Linked DNA regions of Homo sapiens: all the other regions are linked to region 1. The links come from fine-mapping of genetic effects on gene expression. A gene starts in region 1. Each other region holds a variant in brackets. All regions are shown on one strand. Distances are from middle to middle.

What was found. PIP is the estimated chance that this variant, and not a neighbour inherited with it, causes the effect.
Region 2: its variant is fine-mapped to the expression of ZNF286A in hippocampus (GTEx, PIP 0.95).
Region 3: its variant is fine-mapped to the expression of ZNF286A in whole blood (INTERVAL, PIP above 0.99).

Annotation. Positions count from the first base shown.
Region 1 is chr17:15,694,166-15,704,520 of GRCh38, forward strand. It overlaps ZNF286A (zinc finger protein 286A), which reads left to right and starts at 5,587. Exons shown (of 6, transcript NM_001130842.2): 1 at 5,587-5,612; 2 at 5,970-6,201; 3 at 6,987-7,075. The coding sequence starts at 6,165. It overlaps ZNF286A-TBC1D26 (ZNF286A-TBC1D26 readthrough (NMD candidate)), which reads left to right and starts at 5,587. Exons shown (of 23, transcript NR_171000.1): 1 at 5,587-5,612; 2 at 5,883-6,201; 3 at 6,987-7,075. It also overlaps the pseudogene UBE2SP1. RefSeq lists enhancers at 5,284-5,895, 5,331-5,380, 5,391-5,710.
Region 2 is chr17:15,282,544-15,292,898 of GRCh38, forward strand. It overlaps LOC124903932 (a long non-coding RNA gene), which reads left to right and starts at 6,720. Exons shown (of 3, transcript XR_007065634.1): 1 at 6,720-7,016. The variant T/C (reference allele first, on the strand shown) is at 5,158.
Region 3 is chr17:15,721,155-15,731,509 of GRCh38, forward strand. The region is part of intron 6 of ZNF286A-TBC1D26 (ZNF286A-TBC1D26 readthrough (NMD candidate)); the gene reads left to right. It overlaps TBC1D26-AS1 (TBC1D26 antisense RNA 1), which reads right to left. Exons shown (of 5, transcript XR_001753084.3): 5 at 9,873-9,943. Among named protein-coding and RNA genes, the nearest start is that of TBC1D26, 6.0 kb to the right of the region's middle. The variant TA/T (reference allele first, on the strand shown) is at 4,886.

The sequences.
Region 1 (10,355 bases):
TTTTTTTTTTTCTTGGAGATGGAGTCTCACTCTGTTGCCCAGGCTGGAGTGCAGTGGCATGATCTTGGCTCACTGCAACCTCTGCCTCCCAGGTTCAAGTGATTCTCCTATCTCAGCCTTCCAAGTAGCTGGGATTACAGGCATGCACCACCATGCCTGGCTAGTTTTGCATTTTTAGTAGAGACGGGGTTTCTGCATGTTGGTCAGGCTGGTCTCAAACTCCCAACCTCAGGTGATACACCTGCCTTGGCCTCCCAAAGTGCTGGGATTACAGGCGTGAGCCATGCACCGGCCAGTCACTTTGAATATTTTACATCCTATTTTTATTCTCCTGGTGCTTGTACCTAATTTATTAAAACCCACACCTGTTTCTTCCCCACCTCCCATCCATTTTTTATGGTTGTGAACGTGTATTTTTTTATGCTGATCGGCCCAGGGTACTATATACAGCAAAACTATTTTTTTTCTTTCTTTTCTTTTCTTTTTTTTTTTTTTGGAGACAGAGTCTCACTCTGTTGGCCAGGATGGAGTGCAGTGGCATGATCTCAGCTCACTGCAACCTCCGCCTCCCGGGCTCAAGCAATTCTCCTGCCTCAGCCTCCCGAGTAGCTGGGATTACAGGTGTGTGCCACCACGCCCGGCTAATTTTTGTATTTTTAGTAGAGATGGGGTTTCACCATGTTGGCCAGGCTGGTCTCAAACTCTTGACCTCAGGTAATCCGCCTACCTCGGCCTCCCAAAGTGCTGGGATTACAGGCGTGAGCCACCACACCCAGCCTTTTTTTTTCTTTTGAGATGGAGTCTCGCTCTATCTCCCAGGCTGGAGTGCAGTGGCATGATCTTGGCTCTCTGCAGCCTCCCCCTCCCAGGTTCAAGCGATTCTCCTGCCTCAGCCTCCTGAGTAGCTGCGATTACAGGTGCATGCCACTATGCCCAGATAGTTTTTTTTGTTCTGTTTTTTGTTTGTTTATTATCATTATTATTATTTTGAGACAGAGTCTCACTCTGTCACCCAGGCTGGAGTGCAGTGGCACAATCCGGGCTCACTGCAACCTCTGCCTCCCGGGTTCAAGCAATTCTCCTGCCTCAGCCTCCCGAGTAGCTGGGATTACAGGCATGTGCCACCATGCCTGGCTAATTTTTGTATTTTTAGTAGAGACAGGGTTTTGCCACGTTGGTCAGGCTGATCTTAAACTCCTGACCTTAAGTGATCCACCCACCTCAGCCTCCCAAAGTGCTGGGATTATGTGAGCCACTGCACCTGGCCAATGTTTTCTTTTTTGTATTTTTAGTAGAGATGGAGTTTCACCATATTGGCCAGGCTGGTCTTGAACTCGTGACCTCAAGTGATCCACCCACCTTAACCTCCCAAAATGCTGGGATTATAGGCGTGAGCCACCACACCCGGCCTAAAAACTGAAAATAGAACTACCATATGATTCAGCAATCCCATGACTGAGTGTTTATCCAAAGGAAAGGAAATGAGTATATCACAGGGATACCTGCACTTCCATGTTTATTGCAGCCATATTCACAATAGCAACTTAAGTGTCCATCAATGGATGACTGGATAAAGAAAATGTGATATATATACATAATGCAACACTATTTGGCCATAATAAAAAATGAAATACTATCATTTGCAGCAAGATGGATGTAACTGAAGGTCATCATGTTAAGTGAAATAAGCCAGGCATAAAAAGACAAGTACTGCATGTTCTCAGTCATATGTGGCAGCCAATAAAGTTCATCTTATGGAGGTAGAGAATAGAATGATGATTACCAGAGGCTGAGAAGGGTGTGGAGGGTGATGAAAAGGGGTTGATTAACAGGTACAAACACACAGTTAGATAGAAAGAATAAGTTAGAATCTTTAATAACACAGTTAACAACAATATATCGTATATTTTAAAATCACTAGAAAAGAACATTTCAAATTTCCCCAACACAAAGAAATGATAAATATTGAAGGTGATGAATATCCCAAATGCCCTGACTTGATTATTACATGTATTTTGCATGTATCAAAATATCACATGTACCCCATAAATATGTACAAATATTATTTATCAATATTACATTTTCTTCTTGTAATCAGTCCTGCTATTGACAAATCAGATTTATTTATGTAATTATTATTTGTTGAGAAGCCACAAAATGCCAGGCACTGTTTTTTTTTTCACGTCGATACCTTTTTTTCTTCTCAACAATCAAAATACAAAGTTAAACACAATTGAGCCATTGTTTTGGTTATGCATAATGTGTATGCCTCCAAAAACAGAAGAAAAATAGGAAGAAGTACCCTCACTAAAGGTTCCCTGACTCGTCTTCCGGCAGATCCAACGAAGGGAGACTCAGGAAAATCACACTTAGAAAGCTGCCCAATGAGGTATTTATGCAAAAAGAGTGTTCTGGAATTAAGAACATACTTTTATATTCCTGTATTTCTCAAAGAGATCAGAAAAGTAAATCACACACATTGAATTTTATTATTTTCTAAAAGAGGCCTCTGCCCCTTTAGAAAAATGAAATGAGGGGAGACAGCCCACGGTGGGGGTTTTAATTGGAAGAAGTCCTCGGCCAGAAACAGTCCTGAATGTTTAACCTCTGCCTTTCAGGAGAGAGGTCTGAATTTTATCATCTGGGGGGTGGGATGAAGGTCGGGGACTGAGCTGGAGGTCTTTAGGCTTGGTCAGGTGACAACACAAATCAACGTGTCGCTCAGGGTCCATAGCTGCTGGATGGCTTTTAGGGTGTCAGATGTTTAGGGAGACGGAGGGAACAGAGCACTGCAAAGATACTTTATTCCTATCTACTGGGAAAAATATGCTGGAAGTATTCAGCTTCAGGTCATGAATTCGACCTGCTGTAGAGGTGTAGGGTTTTTTTTTTGTTTTTTTTTTTGAGACGGGGTCTCACTCTGTCCCCAGGCTGGAGTGCAGTGGCGCGATCTCAGCTCACTGCAAGCTCTACCTCCCAGGTTCACGCCACTCTCCTGCCTCAGCCTCCTGAGTAGCTGGGACTACAGGCGCCTGCCACCACACCCGGCTAATATTTTGTATTTTTAGTAGAGACGGGGTTTCACCGTGTTAGCCAGGATGGTCTCGATCTCCTGACCTTGTGATCCGCCCGCCTCAGCCTCCCAAAGTGCTGGGATTACAGGCATGAGCCACTGCACCCGGCTGAGGTTTAGGTTTTTTCAGGTTCTCTCAACAGCAACCCACTGGAAGGTAAGTGTGGGGAATGCACCAGTTAGTTCCCACTGTCCAGGCTGATGGAGATCTGGCACTACCTGGTACTATTCCAGGCACTGTTTTTAACACTGAGGATTTTTTTTTTAATTGTGATTGTTTTCTTTTGTAGGTGATCTATGTTTTGTTTCTGGTAGGCTTTAGAATTTCTTCGTTAGATTTCACCGTAATATGTGGTGTCTTTTCATAATTTTGTTTGACTCTCTATCAATAATTTCAATATGAAGTCTTTAATTTTTTATTTTTCCATAATTCTTGATTATTTCTTAAAATAGTTCCTCCTCTCTGTTTTTCTTTCCTTATGGATTCTCATAAAGTCTAGTCAGCTTCCATACTGCTTAATATTTCTTTCGTATTTTTCAACTTTTTCTCCCTTCCTGGTATCTTCTGGAAGTGTAGAGTTCCCTAGCCTGATATTGTAGCTTCACTAGAATATTGTAGATATTCACTTTTCAATTTTACACATTCTGCTATCCAATCTAGTATTAACCATCATATTTTGACACACAGTTTCGTTGTTTTTATTTTTATGACAAGTTCTTGCTTGATATTTCCTGTCTCCTCCTTTATCATTCTTAGGATAGCTTTTTAAAAGTATGTGTACAGGCCACACACCTCCTAGGACCGACTGTAGCCATTTGTCTTCCTGTGGGTTTCAAATAAACTTTTCAATAGTTGCTCAATCCAACAATTTCCCTCTTCCAGACAATTCCCAGATTGGATTTTGACAAAGAAGATCCTGTTTTATGTTAGAAAGTGGAATTAGTTAAATTTTCCTGCATAACAATATGACCACATACTCAGTGGTCCAAAATAGCACATGTTTATTATCTCATAGTTTCTATGGGTGAGAGTCTGAGCACAGCTTAAGTGAGTCCTTTGCAGCCAGCTATCAAGATGTCAGGCAAGACAGGGTTCTCATGGGAAGACTCTACAAACAATGATTCACTTCCAAGCACACAGAGCTGTCCAAAGGGTTCAGCTCCTTGCAGGTTGTGGGACCAAGGGCCTTCGGTTCTTGCAGGCTATTGGCTGGAGGCCATCCTCAGTTCCTTGTCATATGGGCCTCCCCAACATCACCACCACTTCATCAAAGCCAGCAAGAGAGGAGTCTCCTAGCAAGACACACGTTAGACTTTTATGTCACCTTTATTGCACTGTATTGGTTAGAAGCAAGTCCCAGTCCATACACAAGAGGGGATTGCACAAAGGTGTAACTACCAGGTGGCTGAGATAATGGGAGTTACAAATCCCTTCTGGGAGCTGGAAATCATCTTTCCTTGAAGTTTCTAAAAGCCACTGAACGGTTTGAAGCACTAAAGTAATAGCATATTCTTGTTTTAGAAAGAGCACTAGCCAGAAAGTGTGGAGAACAGATTGGTGGTAGAGAAAACCTTAGTTAGGGAATCCAGTTACCAGGCTGCAACGGCAATCCTAGTGAAATGGTGGTGGCCCCAACTAAGGTAATGCTACTGAGAATAGAGAAAGATGGAAACAATTGAGTTATTTAAGATACAATGAATAGGACTTGGTGATAAATAGATGGTGAGATCAAAGAGTTAAGAATATTCAGGCTCTGGTTTGTGCAAATGAGTGAGTGGGCAGTAATGTCATTCACTGAGAAAAGGAGGGCAGTCTAGACACGAAGCTGGAGGTGGATGGGTTAGTCCTCTAACAGAATTGGAGAGACTGAATAACTCTCCCTTGAAAGAACCACCTTTTATGATATGTTTAAACTAATGCTTATGTCTGCAAAGAACCTATTGCTTAAATTTGTTACAACAGGTTCAATCTTTTCAACTCATTTTAAATACATGAATTTTAGGATTACAAGTAGTCTGTGGATACAGGAACATCTGACTGAGTGTACAAAGAGGGACCTGCTCTTCCTAAAAACATCCTTCGTATGTTTTGAAAGCAAAAGGATGAGTTCTGGGCGCACAAAATATGGATAAAAGCTATGTATTTTAACGTATCTTACACCGGAGTAATTTGGGTTGAACTCAGCAGCCCTAAGCACTGTGCCGCAGGAACTTGTGCAGACAAAGCGCGGGGACGGACCCTGACTCCGGTCCGCGTCTCCGCTGCTCCCTCCCTCCCTTGCTCTGAGGATTAGACACAGGAGATGCTGCCTCATACTCTCGCGAGACGGACGGAGCTCTTCGATCGTCCGATTCTCCCAGCCGCACCACGGGTGCTCCCACCTGCGGAGAACCGGAGTCTGGCGATGCCAAGGCGCTTCTGGGAATTGTAGTTCCGGGCGGGATGAGGGCAGCACGCCTGGCTCCGCTCCTTCTTACGCATGCGCGACTCCGAGCTGGCCAAAGAAGTTCGTCCCCTTTGTGAGGCCCGGGATGGGAGGTGAGTTGCTTGTGGTGATGTCGCTCGTCTCGGCTCGGCCTCGGCGGTGGTTCCCCGGGTCGTTCTGTGCCGAGTCGGGGCTAGAGTGCGCGTTTGTTAAAGGGGCCTCGAGGGCAGACCATGAGCCCTGTCCCTTCTCACTCTGGCCTGATCCTCTCCTCGGGGGACGCGGTTGTGCCACGGGCGGGGTGGTCGCGGGGTTCTGGGCCAGTGCCCCGAGCGCGGCAGAATTTGTCCAAACTCCTGATGCCCCAGCGTCACCTCTTCCAGGTGCCCGGTTCCCCCAGGGACAGCTTCAAGCGGTAGGGACAGACATCTGAGGACCCAGCCTCAGGGATGCTGTCCCCGGGCTTCCAGGCTCCAGCGCCGTAGGACTGAGGCAGACTCCACGGTGAGAAAGAGACCCGATCTAACCCAGGCCTTTCATCAGAGCCCAGGAGGGAAGGCAGGAAGTGGGACCACGAGGCCCGGGGGGCTTCTAACTCGTCTGGCCAGGGAGATCTGAATTGGGGTGAAGAGCAGAATCTCCAGAACAAGGAGGAGGTGGTGATCATGGAGACAGATTTGGCTGAAATGCCTGAGAAAGGAGGTGAGAATTGCGGACGTGTTGAACTTGTAGCGTGGAAGGACGAAATTCCTGCTCCTGAAGGGAAAACGGTTGGCTCAGGGGAGGTGGCTCTTGGCTGGCTGTCTCCATTGTCTTGGGGATGGATGGGCTTTTTAAGTGAGACTGAAGGGCTTGGTATGGGAGCACCGCCCTTTCCATGGCAGCTGGGCACACAGTGGACCCTTCAAAGCTACCCCCAAAATGTGAGTGAAATGTTAACTTCTATGGCAAGAATTCACCTCTTTGGTTGTCAAAAATGTTTTGTTTTACATAGGAGAAAACAGGCGTAGTAGTTAATGACTGACTTCCATTCTACCTGACCAGTTTCATGAAGGTTGTGCTGTGACCTCCTACACCAGAATTCCCCCTGGGGTGGTTGTTAGATTTCTGGATTGTACCCCAGGCTCAACTAATGCTTATTACTTTGAGGTGGGGTCCAGCAATCTACATTATAAATAAGCTTTCAGAGTGAGAACCAACGAGTATAGATTAAACTGGGAAATTTACTGACATATTCTAATTTCTAGATCAGAGGATGCCATCTTACAGAATGTGTTATGATTATAGCAACTGAATTCGAGCCCAGAGTAGCAATATTCCCGCATATCCCGGGAAGAGGGTCCTGGGAGGAGGTCGGTTGTTTTGGGGGTACCTTCAGTCTCAGTGTTTGTAGGCAGCACATATAGTATGTTGAAGTGGTTTTTAGACTTTAAATCTGAGTGGCACGTTAAGCCTAGGTCTCATCATTACTGCTTTCTTGTCGTTAGCTCTGTCTTCCCAGGATTCTCCCCATTTCCAAGAGAAGAGCACAGAAGAGGGAGAAGTGGCTGCTCTGCGCCTCACGGCCAGATCCCAGGTGAGTGAGTGCTGATTATTGGAATTACACCTTGTTTCTTAGAGTACAGATGCACTCCCTTCTTTGTGATGTGGAGTTTCTTTATCCACTAAAGCCCATCTGCAGAGCTGAGTTCTAAATCTAAGAGACTAGTCAGGAGACTAATGGACTCAGAAGAAAATGTTTTCTACTTATAACACTGGATGGATTTCTTCCCTATTTAGTGTTTATTGTCCCTCAACAGATAGGTAAGCAGCATTTCCCTTTCTTAGCCTCCTATGCTCATTTCTGTGCTTGGTAATGTGAGAAACTATTTTAAATATAATGTGGTACATACCTCTTAAAACTTGTTTCTCTAGAGGAAACAGCATGTATGTGACCTTAAGTGGCAATCTAAGAAAGCACTTAAATGCTGAAGTGATTGTAAAAATAATAAATACTCACATAGTTCAAAGAAATACTGGAAAAGGAAAGCCTATGAAGGCGTAATTTAAAGAGTTACAGTTAGAATCCAGCCCTCTGAGATGATGAAAGCTAAGGTATGATCATGTCTGCAACTTACTTTTATATTGTTGGCCCCTCTCTCCCAAAAGGTAAATATGACAAATATTACGAATGTTTGGCTGGGCGTGGTGGCTCATGCCTGTAATTCCAGCACTTTGGGAGGCCAAGGCAGGTAGATGACTAGGTGAGGAGATTGAGACCATCCTTGCTAACACGGTGAAACCCCGTCTCTACTAAAAACACAAAAAATTAGCCAGGCATGGTGGCACGCACCTGTAGTCCCAGCTAGTCTGGAGGCTGGGGCAGGAGAATCACTTGAACCTAGGAGGTGGAGGTTGCAGTAATCCGAGATCGCACCACTGCATTCCAGCCTGGGCAATGAGGGAAACTCTGTCTCAAAAAAAAAAAAAAAGAATTTTTGAATTTAGGCGGTGATTGTACTATATCAGTGATTATTGCATTCATCTTTCAACTTTTGTATGTTTGAAACTTTTATTAAAAGAAGTTAGGGCTGGGCACGGTGGCTCATGCCTGTAATCCCAGCACTTTGAGAGGCTGAGGCGGGCAGATCACCTGAGGTCAGGAGTTCAAGACCAGCCTGACCAACATGGTGAAACCTCGTCTTTACTTAAAATACAAAAATTAGCTGGGCTTGGTGGTGCGCACTTGTAATCCCAGCTACTCCGGAGACTGAGGCATGAGAATCACTTGAACCCAGGAGGCAGAGGTTGCAGTGAGCCCAGATAGGGCTACTGCACTCCAGCCTGGGTGAGAGTGAAACTGTCTCAAAAAAAAAAAAAAAAAGAAGTTGAGGAGGAAAAAAGGAGCTTTCCATGATGTGTGTGGCATACCACAACCCAGAGATTCCTCAATCAGCCTTTCTCTTTGCTTCTGTAATCCAAGGTGTAAAAAGTAGATACTGCACGTTCATAGTGTTTGTAAAAGTCACTTCCTTTATGTACTTGCCTGTCTCCATTGGCTTCTCAACTGTCTTACATTAGTCTTGAAGACTTTATTAGTCAAGAAGCTTTAAGTTGCAGCTGATAAAGTCAATTCAAATGGGTCTAAGTGAAAAGAAGTAACTATTGACTAACAAACTGAAAAATCTAGGTCTGGCTACATATAGGGCTCAAACAAGAATGTTAAAACCTAATTCTTCATTTTACTGACCTTTTCTCTCCATGGGTTTTATGGCCAAACAAGTTTTTCTCCTAGTGTTGGCCTCTAACGAGTTTAGGCTTACATCTTCCTGTGTTGAAGGCCAGAGAAAAAGGGCAGATTCTCTTCTAGTCATTCTTGCAGAAGTGCTGGGATTGACTCTAATGGGGTATTAGGCCCATTCCTGGATGAGATATTGGCCAAATTTAAGTGTAATTCTTTATAGAATATACCTACACACACACGCACATACACATGCGCGTGCACGCACAAACATCCCACCCATGAATCAGAGATGGCGTCAGTACTACCTGAGCTACACAGATTCAAAGTGGCCAGGCATAGTAGCTAGGGGAAAATTAGGGCACTGGTACCAGAAGCGTGAATATATATTTCAATACTTTGATATCAGATTCAACACTGTTAACAGCATCAAGGTGATTGAACCTATTATGGAAAATTTTTAAAACTCTCTTTGTTCTTTGTGCATTTTATTAGATTTTAAAAATGCAATATTGGAGCTTTTTTTCTTGTTAGAATTTGCCTGGGCTATTTTTTACCTTTGATTTGTTAGATTTTTAAAAATATTAAAAGTTTTAGTTCTTCAATGTAATAAAGTGAACAACACAGACATACAGAAATGTAAAGGTAATGCTACTTCCCCCTCAAATTCAGTCCCTGCCTCTCTCTACTATGTATATTTTTTCACATTTTTTGTTGTACTTGCACTACTGTATTCAGACATATGGTATACTATATTTCCTTCCATCTACCTACCAGTACCCAACCCAGCAATAATATTTTGTTTGGATGGCCTATTCTGTATATAGGATGTGGCTTTTTAAAAAAACCTTTTTATAAGGGAAATTTGCTCATTCACATATAATACATGTGTTTCAAACTTTTATTGCCATGTGATTTTTATAATTCTGTTTCCTGTGCTTTATTGTTTCCTCTTTTGTAGTTTTCCTGCTGTTTGTGCAATGGTTTGCATTTTTGTTGTTCTGGCTTTTTCTTCTAATTTTTGGGCACTTAATCTCCACTGAATGTGGATTTAGTTATGTATATGCAGATTCTAGGCTAAGGTTCATTTTTCCTCATAATGTCTTTTCTACTTAGGGGCTACTTAGTGATTTTTACATATTATTTTATCTTAAGGGAATAATTCTCTTATTATTATTATTATTTTTTTTTTTTTGCTTTTCCAACTTTATTTAGAAAAACAAATCCAGGTCCCAGTGCCCCCTGTACCCTCCCCGACCCCAGCCATAATTTAAATAACTTAGAGACAGAGTTGGAGGGAGGGGACAGGAGAGGTTGGGGTCACGGTGGAAGGAGGAAGAGAGCCCACTACAGCCGCCGCAGCGCCCGCTTCTTGTCCGTCTTTTTCTTGGCCGCCAGCTTCTTATCGCGCTCGCCAGCATGCTTCTTGGCCATGGGACCCTCAGCCCCTCCCAGGCCCCCTGGGGCCCCAGGGTCGGTGGAGGAAGCTGCAGTGCCACTGGCCAGGGCCCGCCCGGCTTCGGCCCTGCCGCTGGGCCCGCCGGCGCCCCCGTGGATCTCTGTGAGCAGACGGGCCCGAGCCGCATACTCCTCGGAGTTCTCCAAGAGCAGGCGGCCCGCCTCCTCGTTGAGTGCA
Region 2 (10,355 bases), 410 kb before region 1:
GCACCACCACACCCTGCTAATTTTTGTATTTTTAGTGGAGACGGAGTTTCACCAAGTTGACCAGGCTGGTCTCAAACTCCTGTCCTCAGGTAATCCCCACACCTCGGCCTCCCAAAATGCTGGGAGCCATGGCACCTGGCCTCATTTTTATAAAATTATTTTATTTTCTGTGTGTTTCACTTGGGATAATTTTCATTGCTATGTCTTCTAGTTCACTTACCTTTTCTTCTGCAAGGTCTAATCTGTCATTAATCTCATCCCATGTATTTTTCATCTCAGATGTTGTCATTTTTATTTCTATAGGTTTGATTTCTGGTTACATACATTTCACATCTCTACCTAACTTTTTCAACTTGAATTCAGTTATAATAACCACTTTAATGTGCTTGTCTGCTAATTCTGACATCTGTGTAAGCTATGGGTTTGTTTCACTTGATTGATTTTCTTCTCATTGTGGGTCATTTTTCCTATTTCTTGGCACATCTGGTTATATTGATCAGATGCTAGACAGTGTGAATTTCACCTTGTTGGGTGCTGGATATTTTTGTCTTCCTACAAATATTTTTGAGCTTTGTTTTATGGTACAGTTAAATTACTTGGAAACAGTTTGATCCTTTCTGATTTTGCTTTTGAGATTTGTTAGGCAGGTCTAGAGCTAATTATTGCCCACTACTGAATCAAGACCTTTCTGACTAGCCTACTTAATTATGAGTTTTTCCAGTTTGGATGGTGGAAACAGGTATTACTTCCACCCTTGTGTGAACACAAAGTATTGTTCCCTCAAATTCTTTTGACTGGTCCTTTCCCTGGGTCTCACATTGTTTTTGTTCTTACACAAGTGGACCAATCAGTACTCTATTGAGTTTTCAAGGTCTCTCTCTCTCTCTCTCTCCCCTCTTTGGTACTTTAGTCCTATGACCCCTAGCATCCTTAGACTGCCCAAACTCAGTTCTTTCTCCTCAACTCAGGGAATTCACTGGGCTCTTCCTGGATTTCTCCTCCTTGTGTCATGAACTGGAAACTCAGTGGTGTGAGCTGAGGCTATTATAGGATTCATCTCATTCATTTCTTGTCTCTCAGAGATCACTGTTCTTTGTTGTTCAATGTCCAGTGTCTTGAAAACCGTTGTTCTGTACATTTTGTCTGATATTTGTTTGTTTGTTTTGCTGTTGTTTCTGGCCAGAGAGTCAGTCCAGTCCTTATCACTCCATCTTGGCCAGAAACACAAGTCCCTTTGGTTTTTCAACCTGTATTTTCCAAACAGGTCAGGCAGTTTATTAACACTTGACCTTAGTCAGAGGGTTAGCACGTGACTTATCTTCCAAGAATCTGATCCAAGACCATCTCCTTTATGAATCTTCTCCTGACATATTTCACCTACCATTGCACAAGGTACATGGAATAAAGCTTATCCTATTCATGAGGGCTACATTCTGAGCACTTCATGATTTTCCATGGTGGTGTCTAATACAGCATTATTCTTCCTCTCAAAATGCTTCTGTTTTCTGGATAAGAGCAATTGCTTCCTTAGAAGAATTTAATTTTTCCTCATTTCCATCATCAATAGCATCTGGCTTTTGTATCAAGATTGTTTCTCCCAGACAATACTGAGAAAGTATTTTATCACAAGAAGGCAGCTGTGCTGGTGGCTACCATGGAGAACCATGCATCTCTGAGACACGGGCAACGAGAAGTCAGCTGGTCTCTTTTTGTTTGGTGCCTTGTTTCTGCTTATTATTCTCAGCTCATCAGTTCATTCTGTGCCTCAGCAGAATTAAAATTACTGCACGTCACAGACCTGCATGACTGCTCACGGACTGCTGACATCATGAATACCAAATCGAGTTGTTATGGATCTAATTATACTTTATTGAATTTATTTCTTCATTTATTTCTTTACTGGACTCCTCCTTCTAGGCTATATATATGGAGCCCATCGAAGGCTGGGACTTGTCTTACAATTTTTTATTCCTCTGCCTAATTACAATCTCTGGCATAAAACAGGTATTTGCTGAATGAATGAATAAAAGCACAATAAGAAAAACGTACAAATCTCCAAACCTCTATGTATTACTAGAATGCCTGTACTTTGATGACCCTGTGTTTATATTTGTCACATTTTGGCTGTTAAAACATCATTTTCAGCTGTTTGACAACTCACTTGTTTATGTTGCTTCAAACGTTTTAAATTTCTAACCTAATGGCTCATCTAGTGTCATTCTGCCACTTAGACTTCAAGACTAGAAAACAAGAAAGAGTGCAGCATAGTAGTATCATAGAATGTCTCAAGAATCCCTAGTGCAGGGATAAACACCTCTTGGAAGAGCTATCAGGACATTATCATTTTACCACCATCACCCCTGAGGCTTCCTGAATGCTTATTATGTGCAGGGACTTCCAGAGCTTTACTGTGGCAAAGTCAATCCGTTTTTGCTTTTCAAACTGATAAAATACTTAGAGGCCATGCATGCCAAGACACATTTCTATTATCACACTTGGCCCTCCACCATATCAATGGGTTCCACATCCACAGATTAAACCAACTAGAGATTAAAATGTTCAGGAAGAAATAAAATAAAATAAACCAATACAACAATAAGTAATACAAATAAAAATATAGGATAACAACTATTTACATAGCATTTACATTTCACTGGGTATTTTGAGTCATCTAAAGGTGATTTAAAGTGTACTGGAGGATGTGTATAGGTTGTATGTGAATACTATACCCTTTTATATAAGGGACTTGAGCATCTTCAGATTTTGGTATACACAGGAGGTCCTAGAATCAATCCCTGCAGATACTGAGGCATGACTTTTTTTCTGTTTTAAACATCAGGAAAATGAGGATCCCAGTACAAAGAAACTTTATTAGCAAAGAAGACTGGAATTGGACCCTCCTGTGTAAGCACAGTGTGGTTCCAGCAGCTCAGTATGAAACTTTAACTTTCTCACTGGTTCACTTTTATCTCTGAAGGATAAACCCTCCAAGGTGTTTGGTTACTAGAGCAGTGGATCTGATAACTCTTCACTGGCCGCTGTCTGGGACAGGATCAGGATTTAATGTGAACTATTTGAAGGCTTCAGATGAAGGGCCATGCAGCCGAACATTTAGTCATGTTCAAAACATCAAACATCTGAGGGACTGAACTATGTTTATCCAGACCTGGCAATTCCTGCATCCAAAACTATTTTCCTGGAGCATCTTGGAGGATTAGTCTTTGCCAGAAAGCATTCCTATAATTTTTCTCACCATCGCTACTCTCTACGTGCAGATGATGGGATGGCACCTGCCTGTTTGGCTGCACGCAGGGGCCGGAGCACAGGGACATCAAAACACAGTTCTCACCCAAATGATTACAGATACTTCGGCTCAGCACAGCCCTCCCAGCATGCACATGGGGACACTATGGCCATTTGAAGTCCCTGGATGTACAGACCGGTTTCTGGAGAATTCTGTGGTTGTGACACCTGGGTTCTATGCCTCCTTTCTTGGTCACAAATTCCAGGCACAGGCCACTTGTGGTTGTGCATGCCAGCTCTGGTCTCAGCACATGTGAGCATAAGATTCCATAGCAAAATACCCACGGCCATACTGTAGGGCTTCCCCCTTGTAGGCATAGAGGGGTAGGGGGACCCAAAGGCTTCCATCCCTGGACAGACCCTTTTATGCCTGAGATGGGTTGTTAGTTTTATCTTAGTTTGTGAGTTTGGTTCCCTGTTGCTGTCTCTCAACTTTTACAAAAACCTATTTTATTTTATTCTGTTTTATTTTATTTTATTTTATTTTATTTTATTTTATTTTATTTTTTAGAGACAGGGTCTCACTCTGTCACCCAGGCTGAAGTGCAATGGCATGATCATAGCTCATTGCAGCCTCAAACTCTTGGGCTCAAATGATCCTCCTTCTTCAGCATCCCAAATAGCCGGGACTACAGGTGCGTACCAACACTTCAGGCTAATTTTTAAATTTTTGGTAGAGACAGAATCTCGCTATGTTGCCCAAGCTGGTCTCAAACTCCTAGGCTCAAGCCACCTTGGCCTCCCAAAGTGCTGAGATAATAGGCATGAGCCACTGTGTCTGACCCAAAAGCCTATTTTAAATGTCTTCCCACAACCATGCTATAAGACATCAAAAGGGTCATTTTTTATACACCCTGTATGAGTTTGCTAGGGCTGACATAACGAAGTACCACAAATTGGGTGGCACAAACAACAGAAATTTGTTTTCTCACAATTCCGGAGGCTAGAGTTCAAGATCAAGGAGTCAGCAGGGCTGGTTTCCTCTGGGCCTCTCTCCCTGGCCTGCAGATGGTCGTCTCCTCCCTGTGCCTTCATGTGGCCTTCCCGCTGCATGTGTCTGTCCTAGCTCCTGGTCTTATAAGGACAATCATCATACTGGATTAGGTCCCACCCATATGACCTCAGTTTCCTTTAATTGCCTCTTTAAAAGTCCTATCTCCAAATACAGTCACATTCCAAGGTACTGAGGGTTAGGACTTCAACATATGAATTTTGTGGGACACAATTCAACTCAACACTCTGCTACACAGAAAGTGTGGTGGGACCTTAACAATTAATAGAGGATCTCCAAAGGAAGGAAAATTTCAAAGAAAGTCTGGCTTCCCCTCCCCAAAAATAGATCATCCTTCCAGGGCAGCTTGGAGTTCCTGGTTTCCTCTTTATTCATAAGAATTCTATTTCTCTGCAGTCTGTCTCTTAGCCAAACGCAATTTCTGCCAAACCATATCTCACCCATACCTAACTCTCCTGCCCCCCTGAGCCCTCCCTTTTTCCATAGATCCCACCCAGAACAGCTCAAAGTGTCTTCCCAAAGCACAGCTCCATCCTTTAATGCCCCTTCATGGACTGGTCATTCAAGTTTGAATTACTCCACCATATGCCCCAGTATTCCTTCCCAGCCATGTCCTCCACAACTTTCCTGGATCTTTTTAATTGGGTTGTTTCTGTTTTTTGTTGTTGTTGAGTTGTAGGAGTTCTCTATAGATTCTTGATATTAACCTCTGATCAGATATATGACTTGTAGATATTTTCTCCCACTCCCTGGGTTGCTTTTCAGTCTGTCATGCCCCTTAATGCACAAGAATTGCTAATTTCCATGTCGTCCAACTTATCCAGTTTTTGTTGACTGTGGAG[T/C]TGCTGCCCCTTGGATGTAAGCCCAGCACCACGTCCAAGCTGTTCACTGCTGCCACTGTCTTCTGAGTCACTAACACTAGTGTCTACTAGAAGAAATACTTTTCTCTGTCTTTTCATATTTTGGCCCATAGAAGAGTAGATTTTGCTCTCTCTCCCATCTAGAGGAATGGTGAAGAGAACATATGCAGCCTTTCCCTCTCTTTCCTCCTCCAGGGTCCTCTCTCGGGCAGCAGAAGGGACTGTGCAACTCATCAAAACTTGACATTCATTGGTTCTACAGGCAAACAGGGCCATGGAGTCAGAGCCAGTGCTCATGTGCCACCCACCTTTTCTGGTGTTTACAGTGGCTTCCTGAAGCAGGCCAGTTATCGCAATCCTGAGTGATAAAGTGAAAGTGTTTCTCTGTTGCTTAATGAGAGTTTTGTATATATTCCAGCAGCAGAAAGAGAGAATGGCCTCCAAACCTCTATTGGTGCCATAGAAATAGATAGAAAGTTAAAAGGGAAGGAAGGTCAATTAAATGATTGAGGTAGCTCTTGCACAAAGTGGGAAAATGTAGTTAGGGGTATTGAGAGGGACATTGATTGCACAGAGAAAAAAATCTGGTTCTCCGGAGATTTCAAGTTTTCACCTTTTCAGATTATACCTCATTTTCTGAGAATCAAAAAGGTAAGGTCCTATGCATGATCTATCTCTAGGGATGTGGAGTTTTGCTTATATTTTTTCACAATACAGGATCTCTGGGACACATAACTACTTCCCCTCTAAATACTTTACTCAGAGATATTCTAAATTTAATTTCCTGGTATATGCCTTCCTGACCCACTTGCCCAGTGGGAAAACATTTTCTGTTGAACATTGTAGAAAAAAATTGATGTATTTTAAAATCAACTTTTTGTCAAATATATGCATTCTCTACAATAAAGTCTCCCTTAATTCATTTAGCACAGTTTTATTTTCTTTGCAAATAATTTCTTTTTAAAAAAAAGTTTCTGTATTTTGTTTTCACTATTCTGTTGGGTTAAATTCTCAGTTTACAAAAAAGAATCACTGATTCAAAACTGGTCTGTTAAAGAATAAAACTGTAATGAAAATAGTAATATAAATATTGCTGCTCAAAATAACATCATAAATATAAAAAAGAGAGATGACTCCAGTCTAGTTCAAATATAGACTATAAATCTGCATATTCTAGAACAAGGACAGGCAAATATGTTTCCTACAAATAACGTCAACTGCAGAGTTAAATTTTTAAATTGGATTTCCCTGGACTAAGGAATCTGCTTCTACTCTGCAATGATTTATCTGTTTAGAAACATTGTTGAACAGAGATGTGAAGATTTTGCATCATTTTTCAACAGTGGCCTTTTTTAATATGCCCACTGAGATTTTTAAAATCCTAAAACAAACACAAAATATTGCTTTTCTAGTTTTAAACTTAATATTTCTATCTAAAGAGGCACACAGTCAACACTCAAATCCTTCTCCAAAGCACACACAGGTTTAGGTCAAAATAATCCCCCAAAGTTTGTAAAACCAGTTTCATTAGTTTTTGAACATTTCTGCTCAGAAAGGAAACAGCATACGCTTGTGGAAATCATTTGTGCTGTTCACTACGTTTCTCTAGCTCATCAAGAGATTGCATCTCTCTGCTGCCCATAAAGTGACACATGACCCTATAACCGGCTTCAGGAAATGAGAGTGGAAACACAGCTTGAAGAGTTGGTCTGCCATGTACCATGCTGTCTCTCCCCTTGCCGCCATGACAACTTGGCACTGTTCCAGTAATGGCGGCTCCGCCAGCCTGGGTCCCAGAGTGTGGAAGGCAAGCAGCAGAGCCTTCAGGAGATCTGTGCTAGGTATGAACTTGTCTGAGTAAGATTTGGAGGTCATTTGTTACTGCAGCATAACTTAGTCCACTCTGAGTGATACGTAGTGACTGACAGAACTCTTTAACCATTAGACATAAGTTGGATGAGGCAGAGTATTAATAGCATATAAAGTGCGTATGCACAGCATACAATGAGCAACGTCACATACTTGTGTTTGCTTTTGGTTTATGGTTGGATTAAACCACTGATATAGCAAATTTGGAACTCACTCTTGGACTAAGAGTGATATATATTCAAGGAAAAAAATGGCTGGTGGTGTTTTCCTGTTGGAAACTTACGTTACAAAAGACGAGGTGTTTGTTTTAGTTAACAATTATGGTGTGAGTCATGGTAAGGACTGGAAAATGTGTGTTGAAATCAGGATACATGGAAACTAGCTACGTAGGCACTGAGGAAAGGAGATGCCGTGACAATAAAAGAAGTTGCTTCTCGGCCGGGCGCAGTGGCTCATGCCTGTAATCCCAGCACTTTGGGAGGTCAAGGCGTGCATATCACGAGGTCAGGAGATCGAGACCATCGTGGCTAACAAGGTGAAACCCTGTCTCTACTAAAAATACAAAAAATTAGCCTGGCGTGGTGGCACGTACCTGTAATCCCAGTTACTTGGGAGGCTGAGGCAGGAGAATCACTTGAACCCGGGAGGTGAAGGTTGCAGTGAGCCGAGATCATGCCACTGCACTCCAGCCTGATGACAGAACGAGACTCCATCTCAAAAAAAAAAAAGTTGTTTTTCAATGTCAGTCTTCTCACTACTTGGTATTCAACATTATACATATTAATTGTGATGCAATAATGAAGGAAGTACATTCAGATTGGAAATTAAAACGAAGCAATGCCTATTTGGTGTATATATACCTTCTGAGTGCATAGTGTGAAGGTATTGGCAGAATATAAAATTTATTTTCCACACAGACTGTTAGGATAAGGGGTACCCAAATGAGGATTTCAAAGTAGGAATGAGTGGTTGTGAGGTTTTTGTTGTTGTTGTTTGTTTATTTACTGTAGAGATGGGGATCTCACTTTGTTGCTCAGGCTGGTCTTGAGCTCCTGGGCTCAAGTGATCCACTCACCTTGGCCTCCCAAAGTGCTGGTATTACCGGCGTGAGCTGCCACAGCCAGCTATGAGTGTGTGCGTGTGTTTTTTAAGGCATTATTACTACGTGGCACTGATAATATCAGTTAAGGCCCTTTAAATAATATCAAGTGATTTGTCCATGTGGCACGTGGAATATCTTAGCAATGTATTTGGCAATTCATGAGGATTGTTAGAGATGGACGCTGGATGCAGATGACTTAATTGCTAAGAATTTGACTCCTTTCAGATATTTGATGATTTTCTTCAATTACTAGAGGAAGAGAGTAGTGGCATGTTGTTGGGTACACAATACTTCAAAACTGTAACTGAAGGATGCCATGGAATTTGAAAAATTCCAAAGCCCAATTCAAATAAAAAGTGTGTTAGGAACCATTCACTGCTACCTTCCAGCTTTTGAGTTTAATACACTCTTACTGCACTTCTAAATGTTCAGATGGATGCAGGGAGTACAGAACAGTTTCTCACCATATTCTATTTAGTTCTTCGTCAGGTGATTTCTGAAAGAGCCACCTAAAATTTCCTTCGGTCTGAATGGCCTACAATTGTGAGCTAGGATTCTATGTTTTTGATATGCTTAGATTAACATTAAATTTACTTTTTAGTACTTTCATGACTTTTTAAAGTCCATGATCATCTGAAATTTATATTAGCATATCAAATGAAATTACACTCTAATTTTTTTTCCAAAAAGCCAGTTATTAGGTCATCCATCCTTTTCTTCATCGTTATGAACCGTGGATTTTATTGGATCCACACACACATGTGCGCCTATTTTTGGACTTTCTATTTCATTGATCTGTCTGTCTATCCCAGTCATAATTACTATAGTTTAAAAATACTGCTTCTGGAATAATAATCAAGTGAAAATGGATGAAAAGTTTTTTTAAAGATAATGAGAGAAATCTTACCTTAAAAATAACTTCAAAGTTATTATGAAGTATTTCATCTATCACTAGAAGATAATATATGCTGTATTATACATGCTTTACTTTCTTGCCCTCTGCAAGCCTGCACACATGAACAGCTTTCTCTGTGTCAAAGCAACTCACATTGACTTCATTGTCTCTCTGATTGCTGCTTTTCTCTCCTTCCTTTCACTGCCGATCCGCCCCTGCTGCCATGGAACGTGCTCCTCTTTCCCTTAAATTCCTGTGTTATCTGGGTACACTGCACTCCCCAAAGAGAACTATTAAAAGTTATCAGTGACCTCCTTCTTGTCCTTCAACTCTATTTCTGATCTTCAGCCTCCCGCACCTCCCTTATATAATGTTGCCCCTCAGCACACCCACCTTGGTACCCTCTCTCCACTAGCTACCCTGGACCTCCTCTGACTTTCCTGCTGGGAACTTCTCTGCCTTCTTGCTTTTCCTGCATGTGTGCTGCCTGTACACACTTCACTTCAAGTGTGACTGGGGGCGCCTTGCACACATTCCTTAACCTTGCTCCCCGCCTCCTGTGGTTTGGATATGGTTTGTTTGGTCTGGCCAAGTCTCCTGCTGAAATTTGATCCCCATTGTTGGAGGTGGGCCTGGTGAGAGGTGTTTGGGTCATAGGGACGGATCCCTCATGAATGGCTTGGTGCCATTCTCTCAGGAGTGGGTAACGTGTCATTCTTAGTTCCCAAGAGAATTGCTTGTTGAAAAGAGCCTGGCATCTTCTTTTCTCTCTCTTGCTCCATCTCTCATCATGGGACACACCGGTTCCCCTTCCTCTTCTGCCATGAGTGGAAGCTTCCTGAAGCCCTCACCAGAAGCAGATACTGGCACCGTGCTTCTTACAGCCTTTAGAACTGTGAGCTACATAAATCTCTTTCTTTATCAATTACCCAGTCTCAGACAACACAAACAGACTAAGACACCCCCAAACCCTGAGAGTATGAGTTGGTTTAGTTCACGTGGCTTGTGTTCATCAAGGACCAGCTGAACGTTTTCACAGCGTGGTCTACTGTCAGCTAACACCTCCTGGTCTAAAAGGAACTGCCCATCTTCCTGTGGTCTCCCAGAACAGCTCCTCTCCTTGACACTCCGATGGCACCATTGTCCCCAGCACCTCCAAGACATCTTCTGGATGTGCGTGAAAGGAGCCCCTAATTTACAAACCCTTACCACGTGATTTCTCCTCCTTCCACTCTGCTGCCTCCGCTAGCTTATTCTTCCTACTTCCTAAGTAGGTTCCATGGAGGCTTCTATTAAAAGCTTTTCTGGCTTCCT
Region 3 (10,355 bases), 27 kb after region 1:
TGGGAGGCTGAGGGAGGCAGATCACCTGAGGTCAGGAGCTCGAGACCAGCCTGACCAACATGGAGAAACCCCATCTCTACTAAAAATACAAAATTAGCCAGGCATGGTGACACATGGCTGTAATCCCAGCTACTCGGGAGGCTGAGTCAGGAGAATCACTTGAACCCGGGAGGCAGAGGTTGCAGTGAGCCAAGATAGTGCCATTGCACTCCAGCCTGGACAACAAGAGCGAAACTCCATCTCAAAAAAAAAAAAAAAAAAAATTAGGTAAAATGTCATAAAAATCTTATTTTGTGTAACTTTTCAATTATATCTGGTTTGGGGGAAGACAATGTAATATCACCCAAAAGTATAAAAGTGATAATGTAAGAATACTAAATATTCAAATTGATTGGCAATTAACTAGATCAATTATCTATTGAAAATTTGTCATAGTTTTTATTTTCTTAGATGTGTTCTCACTTTTAAAAATATGTGTTTATCGGTTGGGCGCGGTGGCTCACGCCTGTAATCCCAGCACTTTGGGAGGCTGAGGCGGGTGGATCATGAGGTCAAGAGATCGAGACCATCCTGGCCAACATGGTGAAACCCTGTCTCTACTAAACATACAAAAATTAGCTGGGCGTGGTGGCTACTAGGGAGGCTGAGGCAGGAGAATCGCTTGAACCCAGGAGATGCAGGTTGCAGTGAGCCGAGATTGAGTCACTGCACTCCAGCCTGATGACAGACCAAGACTCTGTCTCAAAAAAAAAAAATGTGTTTATCAGAAGATGACTCAAGTTGGAAGCCTGCTTTCTTCCCTTCCTTGTGTAATTCTTTCTGGGCCCCAACTAGGCAGTCTTGGGACCCATAGCCATATGAGCTGTCCCTCTCCATAAGTTTCATTGACAAGGTAGAAGGCTATTCCCTGTAGTAATATATATAAAATGTGGCATCTGGTCCTACTGTGTAGTTTCCACTTATAAACCTCAAAAAATTAGATGTTTTTACTGAATTGTTTTTTATTTTTTTCATGATGTAACCTCTGTTTATAAATCCCTTAGATTGAGTGAACTATACAAAAAAGGTGCATGCTTCACCTCCCTCCCACTCCCACCAATTCATGAAACACGTAATCATCATGTCAGCAAAGTTCACATATCTGGGGCAATCCATGGAGTCAAACTAGAGATAAATGCTTTGCTATTAATAGATCGAGGACTGTCCGCCTCCATCTCTGCTCTGGCTTCCTCTCTGTTGGATGTGCTTTTCTTAGTCTCTTGCAGCGACAAATAGCCTACTGGCACTTGGAAGTTATATTACGGTTCTTGGCATTCACAATTCCAAGGAAAGTACCTCTTTCCAAATAGCTCCAGCAAAATCCCTGAGGCTACTTCTCCACTTTGCTTGAGTCGTGCTGATCACTGAACCTTTTATAATACCACCCTGGAAATGGGGTCCTCTCATCGACCAGGCTTGAGTCTGTGTAAAACCCTGGAGGAAGAGAGGGTGGAGTCCATCCCATTGATGCAACTTGCACTGTGGGTGGGGACAGGGTGCTTCCCTCAAATAAATCCAAAGATGCTGTGCAGGTAAAACAAACACTGCTATTGGAAGTTAACTTCAGCATGAATAAGACTATCTGGCCTCCTGCTCCCCATCTATTCCCCCCCACAAGAGCAGTTTTTCAAAGATCAAACAGTGATAACATTGACAGAAGTTTAAAACCTAAGAAAGTTGGGTGCAGTAGCTCATGCCTGTAATCTCAGCACTTTGGGAGGCCAAGGCGGACAGATCACGAGGTCAGGAGATTGAGACCATCCTGGCAACACGGTGAAACCCCGTCTCTACTAAAAATAACAAAAAAATTAGCCAGGCATGGTGGCGGGCGCCTGTAGTCCCAGCTACTCGGGAGGCTGAGGCAGGAGAATGACGTGAACCTGGGAGGCAGAGCTTGCAGTGAGCCAAGATCGTGCCACTGCACTCCAGACTGGGTGACACAGCGAGACTCCATCTCAAAAAAAAAAAAAAAAAAAAAAACTAAGAAAGTATTTCCAACATTGATTTCATAGAGTTTCTGTGAGGGTTATGTGAAATTATATATGTGAAAGGGCTTTGTTGCACATTGCTGAGTTATATTTTGATGATAATTTTCTATTCTTTGAGACCAGGCTCTAGTATACAAAAAGCATGGACCTCTCACCAGGGTGCCATTTCTTAATGCTAACTTGTGCTACCTGTCCTTTGTGGCCTGGCAGGGAATCTTTGCTCATCAGTAGTCACTTAGGGACCCGAGATGGTATAGGGCAGCCACCACCATAAATATTACTTTTGCCATATCAAAAACATAGTTTTATGTATGGTTGATTCAATTCCCAGTCTCGTGACCTATGCATCTCATGTTGTAGTGACTCAAACCTGCTGGGTTATCCAGGACTGTAATTTTTTTTTTTTTTTTTTTTTTGAGACAGAGTCTCGCTCTGTCACCCAGGCTGGAGTGCAGTGGCGCGATCTTGGCTCACTGCAAGCTCCACCTCCCAGGTTCATGCTATTCTCCTGCCTCAGCCTCCCAAGTAACTGTGACTACAGGCGCCCGCCACCACGCCTGGCTGATTTTTTGCATTTTTAGTAGAGATGGGGTTTCACCGTGCTAGCCAGGATGGTCTCGATCTCCTGACTTCGTGATCCGCCCGCCTAAGCCTCCCAAAGTGCTGGGATTACAGGCGTGAGCCACCACGCCCGGCCCAGGACTATAATTTTTAAAAACCCATGGTGAGATCTGGCTTCAGATATGACTGGATTCAGATATTCAGAAGATGTCATCAGCTCATTCTCTTGCTATCTCAGCACCATTTAATTCCATCTGAATTTATAATTAACGCTTTATAATTTATTATAATAACTATCAGAATGAAGGAGAGTAAAATCCTTTATTGGAGTATAAGACATGATTATTTCAAAGAGGAGTTGATCAGTGTTCCCCTGAGAGTAAGAATGCATTATATACAGTGTGGACATCTCCAGGGCCTTCCAAACATAAGTAAGTATACAGTTTCTGAAACATTTGTTTTAGTAACATATCTATACAAAATTAAACTAGGGAAGGTTTCCCTTCTCTTTGGTCTGACACCTCTTCCCATAAACAGAGCAGCTCTTACAATCATTTTGAACTAATTAATAACTATAGGACATACCAAACAAACCCAAGTATTTCTTACATTTTCCTGTTTATGAATGCCATATCATAAGCTCCAAGATAAGGGTCTGTTTTGGCTTTGTTCATATATATATATATATATATATATATATATATATATATATATATATATATAAAATGAAAAGCATAACACAGAACAAAGCACAAAACTGTAGTTCTGATGAGAGACAATTTCTACTATTGGGCAGATTACACAGAAGGTAAAGAATGATCTTTCCCTTTCTCTTGTTGAACAAACTATCATTTAAGCAAAGATAACCGAAGTTTAATCTTTTTAAATATAATATTTTGAATTAAAGATTTATAGATTTTAATGAACTCATCAAAATCAAGCCAACTTTTGTCAAAATTTTAATACATTTTATTTCTTCTTTTCAGAATTCGCAGCTATTATAAAGCACAAGTAAAGTTCACTTTCCCCCAAACCTTCCAAAACTTACAGCATCCTCTCCAGTTTTATGCTTTAACTATCTTTTGCATTCTGCAACAACCACACATTTCACTCTAAGAGAAAAATAGTCCTGTTTTCTTTTGATAAACAAAAACATAACATTTTCTTTCTACATGTTTAGGGATCCCCAAGACCACCCCCAGGTTCAATGATTCACTAGAAGGATTCCCAGGACTCAGCATGTTGTCATTTTCTTGGCTGTGGTTTATTATAGTAAAAGGACACACAGCAAAACCAGTAAAGAGAAAAGGCTCATGGGGCGGCAAGGTCTGGAGGAAACAAGGAACAAGCTTCCCCGAGTCCCCTCCCAGCGAAGTCACACAAGACTTGCTCATTTCCCACAGCAAGGAGTTGTGACAGCATGTGTGAAATGTGATCTATCAGGGAAGCTCAGTAGAGATTCAAATCCTAAGGTTTGTACTGGGTGCTAGTCACATAGGCAGTCTCTGTCTAGCATGTACCAAAACTCCAGACTTCCAGAAGGAAAGCAGGTGTTCAGCATAAGCTTCATTGTTTTTACAGACAGTTTAGGAGCAGTGATCCACTTTAATTCTGGAATTAGCGGGAACGATCCCAAAGTTATCCTTCCCAGATGCCCGCCTGTGGCCAACCTCGTAGGCAAGTCTTTCTAAAGATAGCAGGCTCGGACTTGCTATGTTAACTTTTCTGCACAGTTTCGTTGCCGCTATTGTTTTCATACAGCCTCCCAGCCACTCATATTAATCACAAATTTGCTAACCAAAGAAATTAACTGGGATGTAGATAATCAGAACTCTCTACATTAGACAGGCAACTTAGCAGATGAGCAAAACTCACAAACACACATAAAATGACCTCCTGCAGCCACACATCCCTTTTATACCTTCTTAGCACACACATTTCCTAGCTCTGTCTACTGAAACGGGCTAAAAGCAATGACATCTCAGTTGCAATGAGCCCAGATCTTGGTTTCTGATACCGTTCTCTGCTAAAAGGAACTAAGGCTCCTCAGAAAAATGGCTGATTGCAGGTCTGAGGGAAGGAAACTCCAAGAAGATCCTGGAACATCTTATTCCAGAAAAAAAAAAAAGTAGCACTCAAAAAAATGATGAGGGTAGGTCACAAAGACACAGGAAGTAGCCCTCACTGACTAAATCCGGAACAATTTGAGCAGCAAAACAAGAAAATGATGAATTGTAAACCATTGAAGAAGTAGTAGTCCATGAGTTCACATTGATAATAAGTAAATAAATGAGCGA[TA/T]ACAGAGGACACTTGCTTACCGCAGAATATCCTATGCCAATGGGTAAATGCGAAGGGAATGTTGGAGCTGGAAAACTATCATTTTGTAGCCATAACAGTAAAGACTGATTCAAGCAAGAATCAATGGATGCTAAATCTAAGGGGAAATTTTGATGAGGAACAGGATATTTGCATAGAATTGAAGTATCTTTTCCAGAGATTGCTTGTTATGATTAGCAATTGCAAGGCAAAAAATAATTATATAGTGGAAGAACTGGCAAAAACTTTGATTACATGATCAAAATTAATATGAGTAAGCAGCACATGGCCATTCTGTGCCTCAGATGTGATACCATGAGAAGGACACAGCATAATGTGTGTACTATTCTGGCTGGGAATGCATAATGGGAATCTAATCATGAGGAAATATTTGACAAACTCCAAAATGAGGACTATTAAAAGGACTGCATTCTTCAAAAATATTAATGTCACATAAGACAAGGAAAAGCTGAATAACTTCCAAATTAAAAGAGACTAAAGCATCATGACAACCAAATACAATACAGGATCTTTGACTAGGTCTTGTGTGAGAGAAAATCTCCTAAAGACATTATTGGTTCAATTTTTCAAAACTGGAATACAAGCAACAGAATAGATAAAAGTAATGTATTGATGTTAAATTTACTGCAGTTGATAACTGTATCATGGTTGTGTAAAGTATTAATAATATCCTCATTATTGAGAAATGCATATTGAAGTATTTAGAGGTAAAGAAGAGTAATGTATGAAATTGAAATGATTCAAGAAAAATTTGTGTATAGAAAGAGCAAATGATAAAACAAGCAGGATTAAACGTTAACTGTGTGTCAGTCTAAGAGGAACCTGGCTATCCTTTGTAATTCTATTGCAGTCTTTGTGTAAATTTCAGGTTACTTCCAAATTTAGAAAAAAATTAAGTGAACACATATATTGACCCAAAGTTAGACCCATTCTGTAACATGAAAATACAAGGCAAAAATATATATAATACAACTATGTTAAAAGACCCTTTTTTCTATCTTACCTAAAACTTAACATCTCCAATGATTATCCATTAATAAGCTCTTTTTATTTTATTTTATTTATTTTTTTTTTTTTGAGACGGAGTCTTGCTCTGTAGTCCAGGCTGGAGTGCAGTGGCACCATCTCGGCTCAGTGCAACCTCCAACTCCTGGGTTCAAGCGATTCTCCTGCCCCAGCCTCCCTAGTAGCTGCGATTACAGGCGCCTGCCACCACGCCCGGCTGATTTTTTGTATTTTTAGCAGAGACAGAGTTTCACCATGTTAGCCAGGATGGTCTCAATCTCCTGCCCTCGTGATCCGCCGGCCTCGGCCTCCCAAAGTGCTAGGATTATAGGCGTGAGCCACCGTGCCCGGCCTAATAAGCTCTTTGTTTTTTCCTTTTCTTTCTTTCTTTCTTTTTTTTTTTTTTTTTGAGACTGAGTCTGGCTCTGTCGCCCAGGCTGGAGTGCGATCTCCGCTCACTGCAAGCTCCGCCTCCCGGGCTCACGTCATTCTCCTGTCTCAGCCTCCTCTCCTGCCTCCTGTCTCAGCCTGTAGCTGGGTCTACAGGCGCCCGCCACCATGCCCGGCTAATTTTTTTTTGTAGTTTTTAGTAGAGATGGAGTTTCACCGTGTTTGCCACGATGGTCTCGATCTGACCTCGTGATCAGCCCGCCTCGGCCTCCCAAAATGCTGGGATTACAGGCGTGAGCCACCACGCCCAGCCAAGCTCTTTCTTAAAGAGAAGATATTTCCACCTTTAACTGACAAAATCCCAAAAATTTATGTCAAGAATTTATTTTTAAAAACTTCTCGAAGATCATTTAGAAAGATTGATAACCACATTGGAAAAAGTATAAAAAATTGCATAGACCCCTGAAAATATGATTATATACATTTTCTTTTTTTGTTGTTTTTTTGAGACGGAGTTTCGCTCTTGAAGCACAGGCTGGAGTGCAATGGCGCAATCTCGGCTCACTGCAACCTGCCTACCGGGTTCAAGCGATTCTCCTGCCTCAGCCTCCTGGGTAGCTGGGATTACAGGCGTACGCACCACCATGCGAGTTTCGCTCTTGTCCCCCGCGCTGGAGTGCAGTGGCACGTTCTTGGCTCACTGCAACATCTGCCTCCCGGTTTCCAGCAATTCTCCCACCTCAACCTCCCGAGTAGCTGGGATTACAGGCGCCTGCCACCATGGCGAGCTAATTTTTTTTTGTATTTTTAATAGAGACGGGGTTTCATCATGTTAGCCAGGCTGGTCTCGAACTCCGGACCTCAAGAGATCCGCCCACCTCGGCCTCCCAAAGTACTGGGATTACAAGCATGAGCCACCGTGCCCAGCCTGATTATATACATTTTCAATAAACATTTATGAAAGTGGTATCAGGCCTTTTAATAATCAGAAGACCAAAATAAATGAAAACGAAATAACATTATCCACTAACCAGAATATGTAAAAGGAAGACTGACAAAATCAGGTGTTGGAAAGGACATCTAATTAGAACTCTCAAACTTGTGGTTGGGTTATATATTAGTCAAAAAAATCTTTGGAATTAAAATTTAATTGATAAATTGTATGTATTTATGCTATACCACATTTTACATACACACACACACACACACATTGTAGAATAGCTAAATCTGTGTATATATATGTATAGCAACAGACAGACATTGTAGAATGGCTAAATCAAGCTACCTAGCATATCAGTTACCTCAGATACTTATCTTTTTTTTTTGTGGTGAGAACATTTAAAATCTGCTGTCTCAAAAATTTCAAGTATTACCACATTGTTATTAACTGTAGTCAACATGTTGTACAATAGAGCTCTTGAGCTTTTCCTCCTAGCTGACATTTTTAGTGACATGCGTTGCATTTGAACATATGCAGTTACCATGACCAAGCTATTTTATTTGTAGGGCTGTACTTAACTAAAATATCTATACATGTGTACCAAAAGAAATTAACAAGAATGTTCATAGTGGCTTTATTGCTAGTAGTCCCAAAATGGAAACAAACCAATGTCCATCAACAGTAGAATTGATAGATGTGCCATATTCATGCAGAGCACCACCGAGCAGGGAAAAGAAATGAACTGCTTGGGCCGGGCACGGTGGCTCACGCCTGTAATCCCAGCACTTTGGGAGGCTGAGGCGGATGGATCACTAGGTCAGGAGATTGAGACCATCCTGGCTAACACAGTGAAACCTCATCTCTGCTACAAATACAAAAAAATTACCTGGGCATGGTGGCAAGCGCCTGTAAGTCCCAGCTACTCGGGAGGCTGAGGCAGGAGAATGGTGTGAACCTGGGAGGCAGAGCTTGCAGTGAGCCGAGATCGCATCACTGCACTCCAGCCTGGCCGACAGAGCGAAACTCCATCTCAAAAAAAAAAAAAAAAAATGAACTGCTTCATGAAACCACTTGAAGGAGTGTCACAAATGTAATGCTGGGCCAAAGAAGCCACACACAAAACCATTCCTACTGAATGGCCCTCCATGCTTCCATTTATGAAACAGACAACACTAATTGGGGCTGCTAAAAACCAGGTGACTCTTTGCTTTGACAAGACAGGTGGGCAGTGGTTAGGGAGCAGACCTTCAGGAGAGGGATTTCCAGATTGTTATTTTTATTTCATTTTCTTGGACTGTGTGGTAGCTCCAAGCATGTGTCCTCTTTGTGATAAATCACTGAGTAGTAGAATAATAGGATTCCTGTGTATATTATACTTTAATAAACATATTTGAATTCCTTTTTCCATTAGGACAAATAATATAAATCATAATAAATCTTTGCAATTTTAGTATTATTTCTAGTTGATGAAAAATAAGCCACCTGAAGGATTCCAAACTTGCGTATTTCAATATAGAACTTACATGTTCTAATATATATTTCTAGAGATCCAAAACTGTCTGATTAATGTCATTTGAGTGTAAAAAAGCACAGTTATGTTTACAATTTGCTCTCTAATCTTTTACTTGAAGTTAAGCTAATTATCCACATCCATCAATAAAACTGCTTTCACAGAAGAGTCCAATCCATGGCATAAATGACAGGAACTTTAGAAAAGTCGTTTCTTCTTCATTATTTATGTAAAAACATTAAATTTCTTAGAAACACAGGCCAGCAAACTCCCAGTTTAGTGTTGCTTTCATTGCTTTCTGTAGTCTTGTTACCAGAGAAGATTTTTATGTTCCAGAATTGCACAGAGGGAAAACCTGACTATTATGGTTACCACTGTGGCCATCAAGACAAGGCACTTGATTCCTAGGATCCCAGCAATGACCCTCCCTGGAGGTGATGGGAATTAAGAGACCTGCTATGGAAATTGTGGGGGCTGAGTAAACAGTATCTACAAATCTTTCTCTGTGTCTGATACTTGAAGTCCACAGGCAGTAAACAAGGGAAGACTGCAGAACAGGCAGGGAGGGATTCCATGAGCAAGAGCTGGAACCCCATAAAAATAAAGTGAAACCCATGTTCATGAAGCTAAACACAGGCCAGTAACCCAGCAGTCAGAGAAACTAAAGGAAAAATCCAAGGAAAGGCAGAGCAATTACAGGCTTAGCTGCTGTTTCATGGCAGTGAGATAAGTCAGCAGATCAGCAACAAGTGTGGTGTGTGTGTGTGTGTGTGTGTGTGTGCGCGCGCTCCCACGCGCACGTGACCACTTGCTACGAAATTCGTTTTATTCCAGTGTGTGAGTGTGCACCTGTGTGCGTGTGTGCACTCCTGTTGACCCAGTTTCTGCTCTGTGGCCAGGTCCATGACCCTAGACGACCCCAGGTGTGCTCTCGATGACGTCTGCAGGGATGGAGCACCGCCCCTGCCATTGGGTATTGCACTGTGTGATGCCATCCTCGGGGCCCTCAGGGTGATGGAACCCAATAGGCTTCCTTAGGCTTTCCTTTCAGATGGACAGGAAATAGATGATGTTCCATTGTCATTTTGTTTTCTTTCTTTCCATGGATTCTGTGACCATCTTCCTCTCCTCATTGACTCTGCCAGAAGGGGATTCCTGGTGGGGCAAGGGTAGCTGGTGGGAAATGAGGTACCGGGAAATTAGCAAAGGGTCTTCTGGCCATCTGGGGACAGTTCTCATGTGGTCCCCAGCCCAGTCTCGAGGGTTCTGGGCCGGTCACCCTGCAGCCTCGGTGCTGCGCCTCTGGATCCAGCCTCCGCAGGAAGAACCCTGGGAGACCCAGCAAAACGGGGTGCCTGGTCTGACAAACGTCCCCCCGTTCCTCTGGCTCTGCGGCTCAGGAATAGGCCGAGACATCATGTCCAGGCAGTGCCAGGCCACCTCACTGCCCCCTTTGAGGTGAGCACAGAGGGCTTTTGGGGGCGAGCATGAAGCTGGGCACCCAGAGCCTGAGGCCGACTGTCCCTCCCTGTGTCCTGGAGTGGGGGCCTTGACCCGAGAAGACCCCCAGGGGATGGCCTGTGGG